Linked DNA regions of Homo sapiens. Changing the gene in region 3 together with the main gene of any one other region gives a genetic interaction. Each region holds a gene or a part of one and is shown on either strand. Other genes may lie near its edges.

What was found.
Region 1: changes in CD22 (region 3) and PLA2G4C together harm fitness less than expected from each alone (positive genetic interaction), as found in Homo sapiens cells (one large-scale study listed by BioGRID).
Region 2: changes in CD22 (region 3) and CAMK1G together harm fitness less than expected from each alone (positive genetic interaction), as found in Homo sapiens cells (one large-scale study listed by BioGRID).
Region 4: changes in CD22 (region 3) and LIG1 together harm fitness more than expected from each alone (negative genetic interaction), as found in Homo sapiens cells (one large-scale study listed by BioGRID).
Region 5: changes in CD22 (region 3) and TPSAB1 together harm fitness more than expected from each alone (negative genetic interaction), as found in Homo sapiens cells (one large-scale study listed by BioGRID).

The regions. Positions count from the first base shown.
Region 1 is NC_000019.10:48,049,565-48,051,838, forward strand, and holds part of PLA2G4C (cytosolic phospholipase A2 gamma isoform 1 precursor), read right to left. Parts: intron 1-2,274. UniProt on the Homo sapiens protein: Calcium-independent phospholipase, lysophospholipase and O-acyltransferase involved in phospholipid remodeling with implications in endoplasmic reticulum membrane homeostasis and lipid droplet biogenesis.
Region 2 is NC_000001.11:209,593,691-209,597,228, reverse strand, and holds part of CAMK1G (calcium/calmodulin-dependent protein kinase type 1G), read right to left. Parts: intron 2,275-3,538; 5' UTR 2,246-2,274; coding exon 2,154-2,245; intron 1-2,153. UniProt on the Homo sapiens protein: Calcium/calmodulin-dependent protein kinase belonging to a proposed calcium-triggered signaling cascade. In vitro phosphorylates transcription factor CREB1.
Region 3 is NC_000019.10:35,335,663-35,339,200, reverse strand, and holds part of CD22 (B-cell receptor CD22 isoform 1 precursor), read right to left. Parts: intron 3,166-3,538; coding exon 2,860-3,165; intron 1,447-2,859; coding exon 1,180-1,446; intron 1,034-1,179; coding exon 770-1,033; intron 1-769. UniProt on the Homo sapiens protein: Most highly expressed siglec (sialic acid-binding immunoglobulin-like lectin) on B-cells that plays a role in various aspects of B-cell biology including differentiation, antigen presentation, and trafficking to bone marrow.
Region 4 is NC_000019.10:48,163,833-48,167,370, reverse strand, and holds part of LIG1 (DNA ligase 1), read left to right. Parts: intron 1-1,747; 5' UTR 1,748-1,804; coding exon 1,805-1,821; intron 1,822-3,538.
Region 5 is NC_000016.10:1,239,536-1,243,076, reverse strand, and holds TPSAB1 (tryptase alpha/beta-1 precursor), read right to left. Parts: upstream 2,373-3,541; 5' UTR 2,349-2,372; intron 2,139-2,348; coding exon 2,078-2,138; intron 1,925-2,077; coding exon 1,753-1,924; intron 1,644-1,752; coding exon 1,378-1,643; intron 1,251-1,377; coding exon 1,087-1,250; intron 1,002-1,086; coding exon 837-1,001; 3' UTR 523-836; downstream 1-522. UniProt on the Homo sapiens protein: Tryptase is the major neutral protease present in mast cells and is secreted upon the coupled activation-degranulation response of this cell type. May play a role in innate immunity.

The DNA.
Region 1 (2,274 bases), about 13 Mb from region 3:
GCAGGACCTGGGCGGACTGGATCTAGCAGGCATCCAGGAAATGTTTGTGGAATCAATGAATGAAAGAATGAACACCATGGTGAGCAAAGTGATGTGGTTCCTGACCCCACACTGCTGCACACCTTATTATGAGGAGAGAGAGTCAACAAATAAGCATAAATAAGCCCTGAGTTCTACAGGTGAGAAGGTGGGGAGTGGACAGGCACAGAGGAAAATCATGTGTAGACACAGGGAGGCACCATCTGCAAGCCAAGGAGAGAGGTCTCAGGAGAAACCACCCCTGTTCACACCTTGATCTTGGACTTCCAGCCTCCAGAACTGTGAGACAATAAGTGTCGGTTGTTTAAGCCACCTGATCTGTGGTACTTTTTTCTTTGAGACGGAATCTCCCTCTGTCAGCAGGCTGGAGTGCAGTGGCATGATCTGGGCTCACTGCAACCTCCACCTTCTGGGTTCAAGCGATTCTCCTGCCTCAGCCTCCCAAGTAACTGGGACTACAAGTGTGCACTACCATGCCCATCTAAGTTTTGTATTTTTAGTAGAAATGGGGCTTCACCATGTTGGCCAGGTTGGTCTCGAACTCCTGACCTCATGATCTGCCCACCTCGGCCTCCCAAAGTGCTGGGATTACAGGTGTGAACCACCATGCCCGGCCTCTGTGGTACTTTTTAATGGCAGCCCCAGCAAACTAATATACAACCCCTCATTAGAAGACAGATGAGCAGCAAATAACCGCCCTGCCCCATGCCAGGCAGGGCTTTTGGGGAAACTCTCTGGGGAACATAGACTGGTCCAGAGGCCCAGAATGGCTTTCTCTTCCCTCTACCTTGCGACCCTGAGGTCATTGACCCAAACTGCTCCTCAGGGTGCTAATTATCTCACCTAGGGACCAACCGCACAGGAGCTAGGGTGGGCCTTTGAAAAGGTGACTCAGATAAAGCTACTTCCCTGCTCAAAACTTAACAGCAGCTTCCCACCATATTCAGAATAATATTCCAACTCTTCCCCTGGCTTCTGTCATCTGGTTGTGTCTGTGTCTTTGTGGCAGGTTGAATAATGTCTCCTAATGATGTCCCTATCCTAATCCCTAGAGCCTGTGAGTATGTGACTTTTTTTTTTTTTTTTTTTGAGACAGGGTCTCGCTCTGTCATCGAAGCTGGAGTGCAGTGGTGTGATCTGGGCTCACTGCAACCTCTGCTCCCCAGGGTTCAGCAATCCTCCTACCTCAGCCTCCTAAGGAGCTGGGACCACAGGCATACACCACCATGCCTTGCTATTTTTTTGTACTTTTAGTAGAGATGGTGTCTTGCCATGTTGCCCAGGCTGGTCTGAACTCCTGAGCTCAAGAGATCTGCCTGCCTTAGCCTCCCAAAGTGCTGGGATTACAGGTGTGAGCCACGGCTCCTGGCCAGTACATGACTTTCCATGGCAAAAGGGACTCTGCAGATGAGATTAATCTAAGGATCCTGAGATGAGGAGAGGATCCTGGGTATCTGGGTGGGCCCAGTGGAATCCCATGGATCTTTCCTTATAAGAGCAAGGCGGGAGGTCAGAGCAAGGAGGAGATGAGATGATAGAAGCAAGAGGCTGAAGGAGGGGCCATGAGCCAAGGAATGCGGGTGGCCCCTAGAAGCTGAAAAAGGCAAGGAACAGCTTCTCCCCTGGAGCCTCCGCAGGAGTTGGCCCTGCTAACGCTTTGGGTTTTGCTCCATAACACTCGTTTCAGATTTCTGACTTCTAGAACTGTATGAGTCCATTCTCACACTGCGATAAAGACACTGCCTGAGACTGGGTAACGTATAAACAAAAGAAGTTTAACTGACTCACAGTTCCATGTGGCTGGGGAGGCCTCAGGAAACTTATCAGGTTGGCGCAAAAGTAGTTGTGGTTTTTGCCATTACTTTTAGTTGCAAAACCGCAATTACTTTTGCACCAACCTAATACAGTCATGGTGGAAGCAGGGCACCTTCTTCACAGGGTGGCAGGAGAGATGAGAGAGAGAGATCGAGAGAGAGAGAGCAGGGGAAACTGCCACTTAAAAACCATCAGATCTCGTGAGAACTCCCTCACTCTCACGAGAACAGCATAAGGGAAGCCACCCCCAAGATCCAATCACCTCCCACCAGGTCCCTCTCTTGACATGTGGGGATTACAATTCGAGATGAGATTTGGGTGGGGACACAGAGCCAAACCATATCGATAGAGTAAGTTACCTGTGGAGATATCTGTGGCCTTTTATCTGTGGCTTAGGAACAAAAGGAAAGACAGTTTCTT
Region 2 (3,538 bases), on a different chromosome or scaffold from region 3:
TGATAATTATTATATTTCCTGCCCGAGCAGACAACAGGCTAGATAAAAGAGCACCTTTTTCATAATTTGTACACTTGTCCACTCTCCACCATGCCCCACTGTGGTAACTCTGTGGGGTCTGCAGCCTGGGAATACTGGTCTTCATCCTGAGCACCACTGAGATGTCTTCTCTTTCGCTCAGCTCTAACTTCTGCAACAGCTGTGACATGCCTCCTGTCTTGTCCTCCTGCTCCCTTCAAATCACTGCTGAGCTAGATACATTAGAACACCAGAAGCACTTAAAATATAGATTCCTGGCTGCTGCATCCTATCTCCCAAAATTCCAGTTTAGTGGGTCTGAGACCAGGGATCTATTTTTCAAAAATCACCCAGGCTAAAAGGAATTGTTGTTCACTTTCTTGAGTGTGACAATGATATTGTAGATATATGTGAAAATGCCTTTATTTTAGGAGATGTAAACAGAAGATTCAGAGGTGACATGTCATCATGTTTGCAACTTATTTACAAATAGTTCAGTGCTCAGTACGTGTGTGTGTGTGTGTGTGTGTGTGTGTGTGTGTGTGTGTGGTGTGTGTGTGATGTAAAATACATACTCTACAGTGAAATGTTAACAACGTTGAATTTAGATGGTGGGTATACTGACGTTCATTTTATCATTATTTCACCTTTTCCTTATGTTTCAACATTTTCACAGTTAAAAGTTGGAGGCATAAACTCTCCAGATGACTCCGATGTTCTCCCAGGTTTAGGTGCTGTGTGGTAGACTTCACTGAGCTCTAAGAGGGAAGGTGTGTCTGTCTTTTGAGTCCTACAGCACAAGTCTAGCAGATGGTAAATTCTTGTCAACCTGGGCTCCCTTCTCTCCTCTCCTCTGGATTTTTGGGACACTTAGCAAATCATTTCTGACTTACTCATGAGGCTTGTCTCTTTCTCCTGCCAAAACCCCCTCTCTGGTCACTCCCATCTTGGTAAAGGCCTTTGATGGAAGGCCAATGCTCTCATGACCAGCACCCCGCTGGGATCCTCCTGCACTTGCACAGTCTGACAACCTGCCTGTGCCAGGAGGGCCCAGAAGTGTCTTCTCTGTCTACGGCACGAGTGTGGGCAGCCGTCATTGCCCGAGGTCACTGCCTTCTAGTCAGTGCAAAGTGAAGTGACATTGGCGACAGAGAAAGCTTACCCGGATGGACAGCCCGCTGGCTGCTCTTCACTGCCCAGGCCCAATTAGCCTAGACTAATTAGCTGACCAGCTGGGGTTCTGAGGGGTTTGGGGGCCAGTGGCCTGGAGCTGCTGCCAGCCTGCGTCAGAGTCTGCAGCCTCCCAGGGGAGAGGCAGGACTAAGTGGGGAGTCAGTTCCAGACAAACTGTCTCTGATCTGCCAGCCATGTAATCATCTTCAAGGTGCAGGTTCAGACACCCTGCAGGCTGGCAGAGGTATGGACTAGAGCACAGCTGAAACACTTGGATATGGAGGAGGGAGGATGGTGGTGCAGGGGGCTGATTCAGGTGTGTGTGACCCACGAGCTCCCTGGGCCTCAAAAGTCCCTTCTGTTCCAGTTAGAGCAGAAGAAGAGGTTGTTCACTGCTGGAGAAATGAAGATGCTGGGGGAGGAGACTGGGAAAGTTCTAGTGTCACTGGACCTCCAGAAGTGCTCTCCAACTCCCCTCTCCTGACAGAGGCAAGAACCCACAAACCGGCACAGATCTGGAAGGAGGAGAGGGTCATTGCAGGTGGGTCAGAAGGAGGCAAACCCTGGGGGAAAGGGACTGGTATTCCCTGAGAGCTCCAATTTTGTTTTGTTTTGTTTTGAGACAGTCTCGCTCTGTCACCAGGCTGGAATACAGTAGCGCAATCTCGGTTCACTGCAACCTCCGCCTCCTGGGTTCAAGCAATTCTCCTGCCTCAGCCTCCCGTGTAGCTTGGACTACATCCAATGTATTAAATCATCTTTGGTATTACCCAAAGTACCTGCCACCCACTCCACCCACCATCCTCCAGGCCACAAAACTCTCCCTAAGTCCCTTAAATAAATCGAAATGAAGTCACAGCAGCCTCAGTCCAGTTCATCAATTGCTGCCAGCAGAGAACAACTCTTCTAACCTCCCACTGCAGGCAGCCCAGCCCACCCGACCTCACAGCCCCAGGACTTACGATCCCAGCACTTCCATAAAAATGAAGGTTTTCCGGATGTTGGTGGTCTGTTTCTTCCAGGAACTGCAGTCATCTTCTTCCTTTCGACCCATTGCCTCCAGAGTTGAAGCTTCTGAGGATGCTTTATTGCAGGGAGTGGGAGAAGGAGGAGAAAAAAGGTCTGGTCAGCTGCTTTCTCAAACAAGATTAAAAACAGGCTGCAATACTGACATCTTTCTGTAATTATCAGAAGGAAGGATTAGGAGCAAACCTGGATAACTGGAAAAAGTGAAACTATCTCCACACTTGCTTTCAAAAATTACAAGGACAAATTCATGGAATGCCTACTACATGTGCACTATGCTTGCTGCATGCTCACATCAGGGCAATAGTAAGTACGTGTGTAGATAACCTGGGAATATCCACCTTGAGGGGATCTGAGCTCAGCTCAGGCATGTCCTGTGTTTTCCAAATGATAGTCACAATGTTTACTCAGACTACAGAGTCAGCCAGGCTTCCTCTCTAATGTCACAACTCTGCCACCTCCCTCAATTTTTCTCACTAGTACCTCTCTCCCACCTGTTATGGGTTAAATGAATGAGTATTGTGCTGTTTTTGTAACTCCTACAACATTTAGCACAGTGCTGGGCAAATAGTTATTCACGAAAATCTAAATTGAATCATTTCCTAAATTTATATCAGAGTTCTGGAGTTACCATATTTATTCAACAGTTAACCAATATGTATTTAGCACCTACCGTGTGCAAGGTGCCGATGGGTACTGATAACAACACAGATGCTGGCCCTGCCTTCATGGGGCTGCCAGCCTGAAGGAGACGGGCAATGGGCAAGTAAAGTCATACGTGTACAGTTACAAAGTGTGGGGAAAATTATGAAAGACAAAAACCTGGGTTTGTCATAGAGATAAACAGGGAGGGTCTTCTTTAGATAAAGTCCAGGGAAGGCCTCTTGAGCAGGTCATATTTAAGCTGAGACCCAAAGTTTGGGAAGGAGCCAACCAAGCAAAGAGCATGTGAAGGAGCTTCTGTGCAAAGGAAATAAAACACCAAAGCTGGAAGGGAGGAAATAGCATAGTGTGCTCCAGAGCCTGAAGGGGCAGTGTGGCTGGTGCAGAGTGAGCTCCGTATGGTGGGGGGTGGTGAGTGGGTAGGAAGAGGCAGGCAGGGGCGGACAATAAAGGGCTTTGTAGACTCTGTTTAAGACATTGGATTTTCTTCTAGGTGAGATGGGAAGACATGAAGGATTTTTAGCAGGGGAGTTATTACACCATTGATGTTTTAAAGAGTTCACTCTGGCTGATCTGTGAAGGGAGAGAGATGTGAAGAGAGAGATGATGGTGGCTCGGGCCAGATGGGAGTGAAGGAGAGAATGATGAACCTGGGATG
Region 3 (3,538 bases):
AGTAGCAGGAACATAGTTCAGTCTGCAGCCTTCACTTCCTGGGCTCAAGTGATTCTCCCTCCTCAGCCTCCCCAGTAGCTGGGACCACAGGCACGCACCACCATGCTCAGCTAATTTTTGTATTTTTTTGTAGAGATGGTATCTCGCTGTGTGGCCCAGGCTGGTTTCAAACTCCTGGGTTCAAGAGACCCTCCTGCCTCAGCCTCCTAAAGAGCTGGGATTGCAGGCGGGAGCCACCGCACCTGGCCTCATTCATTCAACAAGCATCTACAGGCCGGGTGCGGTGGCTCACGCCTCTAATCCCAGCACTTTGGGAGGCCGAGGCGGGTGGATCACGAGGTCAGGAGATCGAGACCATCCTGGCTAACACGGTGAAACCCCGTCTCTACTAAAAGTACAAATAATTAGCCGGGCGTGGTGGCGGGCGCCTGTCATCCCAGCTACTCAGGAGGCTGAGACAGGAGAATGGCATGAACCCGGGAAGGTGGAGCTTGCAGTGAGCCGAGATTGTGCCACTGCACTCCAGCCTGGGAGACAGAGGGAGACTCCATCTCAAAAAAAACTAAAACACAAAAAAACAAGCATCTACCAAGCACCCTCCATGAGCCAGGCCCTATGCTAGGAGCTGAGACAGCAGTTGTGAACAGGAGACCCTGGCTGCTCCTTGCTCTTGACTCCAGGACCCCGGAATGCCCTGCACCCCATCTGCCTTCCCCGTTCCCTGTGTCCATCTTCTCTCCCTAGAACCAGAGGCTCCGTGGCTACTCACACTGGACATCCAGCTCAGCTCCCGGGCCCCTCTGTCCAGTACCAAGAATGTTTTCTGCCACACAGGAATAAGTCCCAGCGTGCCAGGGGAGGATCTTTGGGATGTGGACTTTCTCCTCTGTCCTTCCCTGCATTTCTTTCCCATTGTGGTACCACGTGTAATTTGTTGGAAGAGGATTGGCCAGTGACATGCAAAGAAACTCGACTTGACTTCCCTCCACAGCCGGTGAGTGGAGGATCTGAACCGTGGAAGGTTCCGGGGCATCTGGAAGAGGGGGCAGAGGCGAGTGGAGGGGTGAGGAGAGCACCCCCAACCTGTGCACACGGCCCCGAGAGCCCCCGTGGCTCCCCTCTCCGGGTCCACCCCTGCTACCTCCCTGCCTGGCCTGTCCCCAGCTCCGAGGGGCTCACACTGCACTTGCAGGAACACTTCTTCCGACCTTCCCGGGCCCACGTCATTGGAGACCTGACAGCAGTACTTCCCACTCTGGTCCTTGGTCACTTCGCGCAGGTTTAGCGTGAATGTATTCTGCTTCTTCAGCGAGGTCCCATCCTTGAGCCAGGATACCGTCGTGTACTCCGGGTTGCTGCTGCTGACCTCGCAGGTCATGGTCACAGAGTCCCCCTCCCTCACTATGGCATCACTGGGAGTGACCTTGATCTCCAACTTCGGGGTGTCTGGAGGAGCAGAGGGGCAGTCGGGGAGGGGGCGGGGAATCCTCAGAGGGTGGAGGGTGTGGAAAGTGCTTTTATTCTGACAAAGCCATGGCCTGCCAGTCCCTTCACCCAGGTGATGGTCACAGCCTCCTAACTCGGCTCTCAGCTTCCCCCTCCCACTTCCTCTACTTCTTGGTCTCCACCAGCAGCACGCAGGGTTCCTAACACCATCTACCAGACCTCGCCAATCCTGCTGGAAACCACGAGCGGGTTCTGTGCTTTGCATAGAATCCCAAACCCTCACCTCAGCCCTCGGGATCCAGAGTCCTGCTCCATCTCCTGCCTCCTGTCCTACCATGTGGCCCTCAGAGGCGGTGAACTTCAGCCTCTGAGGTCCTCCCACCCAGCTGCTGCCTCAAAGCTTTGAACCTGCCCTTCTCTTTCCCTGAAATCCTCCTCTCCCAAATATGTGCCGGCCTCAGCCACTCCCTCCGTTCCAGTCAGCTTAAGTGCTCACCTTCTTTTTTTTTCTTTTTTTGAGATGGAGTCTCACTCGTCACCCAGGTTGGAGTGCAGTGGTGCGATCTCAGCTCACTGCAAGCTCCGCCTCCTGGGTTCATGTCATTCTCCTGCCTTGGCCTCCCAAGTAGCTGGGACTACAGGCGCCTGCCATCATGCCTGGCTAATTTTTTGTATTTTTACTAGAGATGGGGTTTCACCATGTTAGCCAGGATGGTCTCGATCTCCTGACCTTGTGATCCCCCCGCCTCGGCCTTCCAAAGTGCTAGGATTACAGGCGTGAGCCACCGCACCCGGCCTAAGTGCTCACCTTCTTAGAGAGGTCTCTCTCCATCACTCCCCTCTCTCGGCCTTATTTTTTTCCTAACACACATATCACTACCTACAATAGTGTTGTATATTTCTTTGTTAACATTGCTTTGTTCCAGATTCTAATGTCTTGGCTCATGCTCTGTATTTCTTTGGTAATCCATTTGTTGTCTGTCTCTTTCACTGCAGCGCTGGCTCCGCGTGGGGCAAGAGTTTTGCTCACTGCTGCACCCTGCCCACCGCCCCATGCCCCCCATTGGCAGCCGTAATAAGGCCTGGTACCTAGTAGGTTCATGATACGTATTTATTGAATGAATGAGGCACAAGATAATGATGCGAAAAAAATCCCCACCAAGAGGGGAACAAAAAGACCTAACCAGATAATCCCCAATTCATGTCATGGCTTGAGGATGGACCATTTTATTCTGTTAGGCTAGAGCAAATCTTTTTCCCGAAACACCAGGGCTGACAAGGCGGCGTGACCAGGGCTGGAGGATGCCGCCGTCTGTGCAGGCTTCCCCCTGCCCTGGGTGCATGCCCCCTGCGGGGCTGGGGAGAAGGTGACACAGACCTTGCCCTTCCCACAGGCATGCCGGGGAGACTCACGCTTCACGTTCAGCTGCACCGTGTCATTGGAGAGGAACTTCCCATCTGCATCCTGAAGCTGGCAGGTCACAATCTTCCCATGGTGACTCCACTGTGGGGAGAACTTGAGCTCGCTCCGGGTGAAGACAGACTTGATGGTCAAGGAGGTCGAGGTGACAGCAGCCTGCCTCATTGGAACCCCCTCTAGGAGCCACTGCAATTGGATCGGATACCCATAGCAGGAGAAATTCAGCAAGCAGGTCAGAGTGACTTCCTGGGACTCTTGAATTTCTGGAGGGAGCTGGATATGAGGTGGAAAAGGCCTTTCTGCAAAAGAACAGAGCCCGTGCAGGAGCCTGGGGGACTGAGGACGTGAGCGTACACCTGGCTTTAGATGTCCTGTCCCAAATCACCCCTCAGGAACCCCTTGCCACTTCATTCCACCTCTCTCCAGTCCTGCTTTGTTTTTTTGTTGTTATTGTTGTTGTTGTTGTGTTGTTGTTTTTTTGAGATGGAGTTTCCCTCTGTCACCCAGGCTGGAGTGCAGTGGCGCGATCTTGGCTCGCTGTAACCTCTACCTCCCCAGTTCAAGTGATCCTCCTGCCTCAGCCTCCCGAGTAGCTGGGATTACAGGTGCCCACCACCACACCCAGCTAATTTTTCTGTATTTCTAGTAGAGACAGGGTTTCGCCATGTTGGC
Region 4 (3,538 bases), about 13 Mb from region 3:
AAGTCAAAGAAAACCATTTCTGTTGCCCAGGCTGGTCTGAGCTGGTCTCAACTCAAGCAATCCACGCAGAGGTCCTGCTAGTCCTTTTTTAAAAAATATATTCATAGTGGAAGGAAATATAATGTAAATAATTATAATTACATAATTATAATGTGTAATTTATTTTCTTCCATTATAAATATTAAAGATATAGAAAATTTATAATTTTTTATATCTTTAATATTTATAATGGAAGGAAAGGCTCAGTTCCAATTAGAAGTTTACAAGAATAAAGTCGTAATTTCTTTCCTGTCAAATTTCATAGACCACTTGAGTTCTGCTCTTGGACTCCTGGGTTTTGTGGACCCCAGATTAAGAACCCTTTCTTTTCTTTTTCTTTTTCTTTCTTTTTCTTTCTTTTTTTTTTTTTTTGAGACAGAGTGTTACTCTGTTGCCCAGGCTAGAGTGCATGATCTCACTGCAACCTCCACTTCCTGGGTTCAAGTGATTCTCCTGCCTCAGCCTCCCCACTAGCTGGGATTACAGGTGTGCACCACCATACCTGGCTAATTTTTGTATTTTTAGTAGAGATGAGGTTTCACCATGCTGGCCAGGCTGGTCTCGAACTCCTGACCTCAGGCGATCCACCCGCTTCGGCCTCCCAAAATGCTGGGATTATGGGCAGCAGCCACCACGCCCGGCCTAGGAACCCTTTCATTAGAGTTACTCTAAACTGTGGAAGCCCCAGTGACTGTTATTGATTTCATTAAATAACAGACTTTTTAAAAAAGTATTTAATTTTTAAAAATATATTGTGAAGGGGTAACGTATTCCAATTGTTCTGCCTGCAAAAGCATGCATATTAAAAAATCTCCCTCCAGCGTCTGTCCCTCCTGAGGCGACAGCATTACCAGTTTTTTGTCTTCCAACTGAGATGTTCTGTACATATACAAGATATGTGGATACATTTATAGTCTTTCTTTTGTTTTTGTTTTTTGAGATGGAGTTTCACTCTTGTCCAGGCTGGAGTGCAGTAGCACAATCTCGGGTCACTGCAGCCTCTACCTCCCGGGTTCAAGCGATTCTCCTGCCTCAGCCTCCAGAGTAGCTGGGAATACAGGCGCGTGCCACCGCACCTGGCTAATTTTTGTATTTTTAGTAGAGACAGGGTTTTGCCATGTTAGCCAGGCTGGTCTTGAACTCCTGACCTCAAGTGATCCACCCACCTCGGCCTCCCAAAGTGCTGGGATGACAGGCGTGAGCTACTGTGCCTGACCTATAGCCTTTCTCTTTTACACAGTTCAGTAGCACACACTCTGTGATATTCTGCCCTTTGTTTGAAATAACAGCATACCTTAGAAACTGCCCAAGAGCTAATTTATGTAGACCAGCGGGTACAATTTTATAAGCTTCCACAGTTGTTTCACGGAATTATGTCATCACCTTAAAACAATTTTTCACTAACCTTTAAACTTAACTCCAAAAAAACCCATTTCAGGTCCTCAGTCTATTCCTCATATTAGATGAAAAACAGTCTTCTTATGGTAAAGGAGGCCTCTTATCTTTTTCTCTGATTTGGAGCTTTTATTCTGCACCAGTAAATCTCACCAGCAAATTATTTTGGTTCATAAAAACAGGAGTTTCTTTTTGAAGGGGAAATTCATGTTTCTGTTTTTTTTTTTCTTTCTTTCTTAAAGAAAGGGTTTTATGTGTGTTTAGATCTCTGCACAACCAATCACCTCAACAAGTGTTTGGATTTCTGTTCCAGGAGCAGCTGACAGACGAAGAAAAGTGCTGGACAGGAAGGGAGAATTCTGACGCCAACATGCAGCGAAGTATCATGTGAGCACCCTCCCTTGCCCCTGAGTCTTTCCTTCTCCAAGTCCTCTGTTTCTTTCTCTAAATCTGTACTTAAAAAAACAAACAAACAAACAAAAACTCTTACGTTAGATTTTGAGTTGGAATTTCCAGGAGTCAAGTAGTATGGAAAATGAGCCGTGGGATATGGAAGACAGTGTATTGAACAACAGTTTTTAGTTGCAAGGAGCAGAAACCCTAACGCAGTGGTTCTCAGTCAGCAGCAATTTTGCTCCCCAGGGAACATCTGGCAGCGTCTGGAGATTTTTTTTTTTTGAGTTGGAGTCTTGCTCTGTCACCCAGGCTGGAGTACAGTGGCGCAATCTCGGCTCACTGCAACCTCCGCCTCATGAGTTCAAGTGATTCTCCTGCCTCAGCCTCCTGAGTAGCTGGGATTATAGGCACGTGCCACCACGCCTGGCTAATTTTTGTATTTTTAGTAGAGACGGGGTTTCACCACGTTGGTCAGGCTGGTCTCAAACTCCTGACCTCGTGATCCGCCCACCTCGGCCTCCCAGAGTGCTGGGATTTCAGGCGTGAGCCACGGCGCCCGGCCAGTGTCTGGAGATATTTTTGGTTGTTACAACCTAGGGACAGAGGGTTTGCCATTGGCATCTAGTGGCTAAAAGCCAGGCATGCTGCTAAACATCCTTCAATTCATAGGACAGCCCCCCCAACAACACAGAACCATCAGGCCCAACATGTCAATAGTGTCTAGGTTGAGAAACCTCGTGTTAATGCAGTCCGGCTTCAGGAAGACAAGAAAGGGCATGACTTGACTTATATCATTGAAACCTGCTGGAGTAAACAGCCTCAGGCTTGGTTCGATCCAGTTGCCAAAACTTCCTCCCTGGGAATCTGTCTCTCTCCATTGTTCAGCTCTACTGTCCTTGAGGTTGTCCTCACCCTCAGGCGGGCTCTCCCCTCTTAGCGGTCCCCTTGGAAAGAGGGTGTTAGAGCCCAGTTTCACTGGCCCAGCCTGGGCCACATACCTATCCCTGAACCAGCCACAGGGATGCAGCCTGGATCACGTGTCCACCCCTGGTCACAGGCAAAAGGGCCAGCCCACTCAAATCGTGTGTACTGAGAGAATGTGGGGTAAGAAGCATCCCAAGAGGAAAACGGAGGGGCTGTTACCAGGAGGAAAAAATGGATGGTAGAGAGACCCAGACAAGGGCATCCATCCCAGAAACCTGGGCGGTAGTGGCTTACACAAATGCTGGGTTCCGTTTTTCTCCCGTGATGAGGAATCTGGGGATTGTCTCTCCAGGGCTGATGGTGCCTTCGATTGCTTTCTGTCCACTGGCTTTTGCATGATTTTTCCTTTTCTTTTTGAAGATTAAATAAACCTCTTATTCTGGAATAATTTTAGAGGTACAGGAAAGTTGCAAAGACAGTACAGAGAGGTCCTGTATACCCTTGGCCAGTTTCCATTGTCAATATCATACATTACTATGATCCGTTTCTCACCACTGAGATACTAATGTCAGTACATTACTCTTAACTGAACTCCATACTTTATTATTCAGATTTCACCAGATTTTTTTTTTAATGTTCACGCCTTCCAACATTTTTTTTTTTTTTTTTTTTGAGACAGAGTCTTGCTCTGTCGCCCAGGCTGGAGTGCAGTGGCGCGATCTTGGCTCACTGTAAGCTCTGCCTCCCAGGTTCAGGCCATTCCCCTGCCTCAGCCTCCTGAGTA
Region 5 (3,541 bases), on a different chromosome or scaffold from region 3:
TGGGCGTGGTGGCTCACGCCTGTGGCCCAGCTATATGGGAGGCCAAGATGGGAGGATCGCTTGAGCCCAGGAGTTAAGGCTGCAGTGAGCCCTGATCACACCACTGCACTTCAGCCTGGATGACACAGCGAGATCCCGTCTCAAAGCAAACAACTAGGCAAAGCACAAGCAGTGGACAGAGGGGCCGGGAGAAGAGCTCGTGGGAAGCGTGGGGTAGGGGCTCATGATGGGCAGCCCTGGGGCTCCCGGCGACCATTCTCTGTCTTGACCCGGTTGCAGGGACCTGGCTGTCCTTTATAATCAACTGAGTTGCCCGAGTGGCTCTGTGTGACCCGAATGCTGGATGCATCGTGTGGGGAGAAGCCAGCCTCGGGGACCAGGGCTGCCCAGGAGGCCCCGTCCCACGGTGACTGGCTGTGCCTTGAGGGCTAGGACCTCACACTGTGGCAGGTGTCCTCAGCACACCTGGACCCCTTCTCTCCCAGTGACATCCACAACCAGAAACACAGCGATGCACACCAGTGATTTCCATGCACTTTAATGAGGTCCAGCACTCAGGAGGATTAGCGCCCACCACCAGCTATCTGGGCAGGGGAGGGCTGGAGGGCCCGGTGCAGGCGTCAGGCTTAGGACAGGGAAGGGGGCTCAGGATAGGGAAGGGTCCTCAGGACAGGGGAAGGGGCTCAGAAGAGAGCAGGGGGCTTAGGACAGGAAGGGGCACTCAGGACGGGGCAGGGAAGGTGTGGGGGGCAGTCGCCACCTGGGTAGGAAGCAGTGGTGTTTTGGACAGCAGGGGTTGGTCCTCCAGTGACCCAGGTGGCCAACCCAGGCCTGACTCACGGCTTTTTGGGGACATAGTGGTGGATCCAGTCCAAGTAGTAGGTGACACGGGTGTAGATGCCAGGCCGGTTGGGCTGGGCACAGCCCTCGCCCCAGCTGACCACGCCCGCCTGCAGCCAGGTGCCATTCACCTTGCACACCAGGGGCCCTCCGGAGTCGCCCTGGGAAGGTCAGAGGTCAGCGCTCGCCGAACAGGCCTGGGAGTGGGGGTTGGGGGGCGGGGGGCGGGGGACAGGCGGGGCCCACCTGGCATGAGTCCCTCCGGGTGTTCCCGGCACACAGCATGTCGTCACGGACGATGCGGACGTCGTCTCCCGTGTAGGCGCCAAGGTGGTATTTTGCGTCACAAATGTGGTTTTCCATTATGGGGACCTTCACCTGCTTCAGAGGAAATGGCGGTGGGAGGCGCTCTGCAGGTGGGGAAGAGGGTGCAGCCTCAGGAGGGGGCCGGGCAACCCCCACCTGGAGCCCAGAGGGAGCCCAGGGGCTGGGCTGTGGCTAAGACCCTGGCCCCACCTCCACTGTCCCCAGACCCACCATCATTGTCCACATCGCCCCAGCCAGTGACCCAGCACGGCATCCCCGGGGGGAAGGTCTCTGAGGCAGGGGGCAGGGTGACCGTGTGGACGTGGCTGGAGACGTTCACCGGCTCCTCCAGCTCCAGCAGGGCGATGTCCGCTCCGATCTGGGCGGTGTAGAACTGTGGGTGCACGATGATCCTGCTGACCGGCAGCAGCTGGTCCTGGTAGTAGAGGTGCTGCTCCCGCAGTTGCACCCTGAGGGCGGCCAGATCCTTGACGTCCCTGGGCAGCGGAGGATCCCACTCAGGGCCCTGGGCAGCCCCCAGGAGCACCCGGGAGCCAGGGCTCACATCCAGCCCTTCCCCACCCCTCCAGGCCCCGGGAGACTCACGGTCCCACGCAGTGCGCTGCGGTCAGCACCCACTGGGGGTGGATGAGGGAGCCCCCGCAGAAGTGCATCCAGTATGGGCCGTGGACTCTCAGGCTCACCTGCCAGGGCCACTTGCTCCTGGGGGCCTCCTGACCCCCGACGATGCCCACTCGCTGCAGGGCCTGGCCTGGGGCTGGGGCAGGTGCCAGGTCAGGACCAGGAAGCAGCCCCAGGCCTGGGCCCAGCCCTTCCCTGTGTGGGGGCCAGCCCGACCTCCCCAGAACCCACCCAGGCCCTGACCTGTGGAATGTGGTGAGGGGCAGGGTGGACCCCGGCTGGGACTCACCAGGGGCCGCGTAGGCGCGGCTCGCCAGGACGGGCAGCGCCAGCAGCAGCAGATTCAGCATCTGGGGAGCAAGGAGGAGCATCGTGGGCCTGGCCGGGCCTCACAGGGCAGGGCTGGGGGCTACAGATTGTGGGGTGAAGAATGGAGCTGGGACGGGGGGACCGGGGTGGGTCCAGGCCTGCGGGCCTGGGTCTTGGTGCTCTGAGTCTGAGGCTGGGCCACTCTGCTCCAGGTGACGCTGATGTCAGGGTCTCTGAGAGTGGGGACTTACCCTGGCCGCTCCCTGTTCCTTCTACCCAGTGGGCTCTCCCCTCCCCATTTATCCTTCCAGATCAGGAGGGGGCGGAGGAGGGGCGCTGGGTCCTCCCATCCAGACTCGGAGGAAGTGGATGACTCAGACCCAGGGCCCCCGTGTAACACGTGCCCCCGCCACCCCGATGCCCTCTGTGTGTGGGGCTGCCAGGCAGGCCCCGCTGAGGGCTGAGCACTGGAGACTGGCAGCTCCACCTGTCAGCTGGTGGATCCCAGCACTGGAACCCACCACCTTCCCGCTGGTGGGATCTGCTCCTGCCCCTGTCTCGGTGCCAGGAGGCCTTCAGGCATTGCTGCACCCAGGTGGCCTGGCTGCCCCAGGCTACAAGACCCGTCGCTCCTGAAACCTGTTTCCCCAAGAGGGACACGGGTGAGGAACTCATGTCCATGGGCCACGCTCCAAGAGACGGGAAGGTGCCCACGGGGTGGGGACATGACGGGTGACACCCCTCCTACGGACTCCGAATCCACGGGGGTGGGGCCAGCCCTCCTCGACTCACTTGGTTGGGGGCTCACGTGAGACCCCTTTGTCAGATGGGGAAACAGCCTTGAGAGGGGACAGCACCAAGTGTCCTCAGCCAGGAAGGGGCCCTGCTCCCCACCCGCCGTATGAGACCCAAGTCCTCCTACGAGTCCTCAATGTCCACCTCTGGGGCTGTCCGTGCAGGTCCCCTGGTCTGCAGGTGCCTCCTTATCATGGGATCTGAGCTTCATACGCAGAGGGAAGAGCAGAGAGGAGTGCAGGTGCAACCCCAGGAGGCCCAGCCCAGCTCCCCATGGACTCACCCCCAACTTCAGCCCCAGCTCCCCATGGACTAGTCCCAGCCCCAGCCCCAGCTCCCCATGGTCTCATCCCCGGCCCCAGCTCCCTGTGCTCTCCATCCCATTCAGCGCTGACACTGTCCCTGCAGGTCCGTCCACCCCACCTCCCGACTCCCCTGGGCCTGTTGGTCACTGGGGCCTCCAGCCCACCTCCTCCGCTTCTGAGCCCCAGGACCCCCTGCCTGCCCCCCGACCCCCAACACAGGGCCACTCCGGGGCTCCTCCTGCCCCCACCCTGCCTGGGACCAGCCTGGTTTGGGGCTGACTCTGCACTGCGGGGCCATATCCATCTGGACTCCTTCCGGGCTGCACCCCCCGGGGGACAGGCAG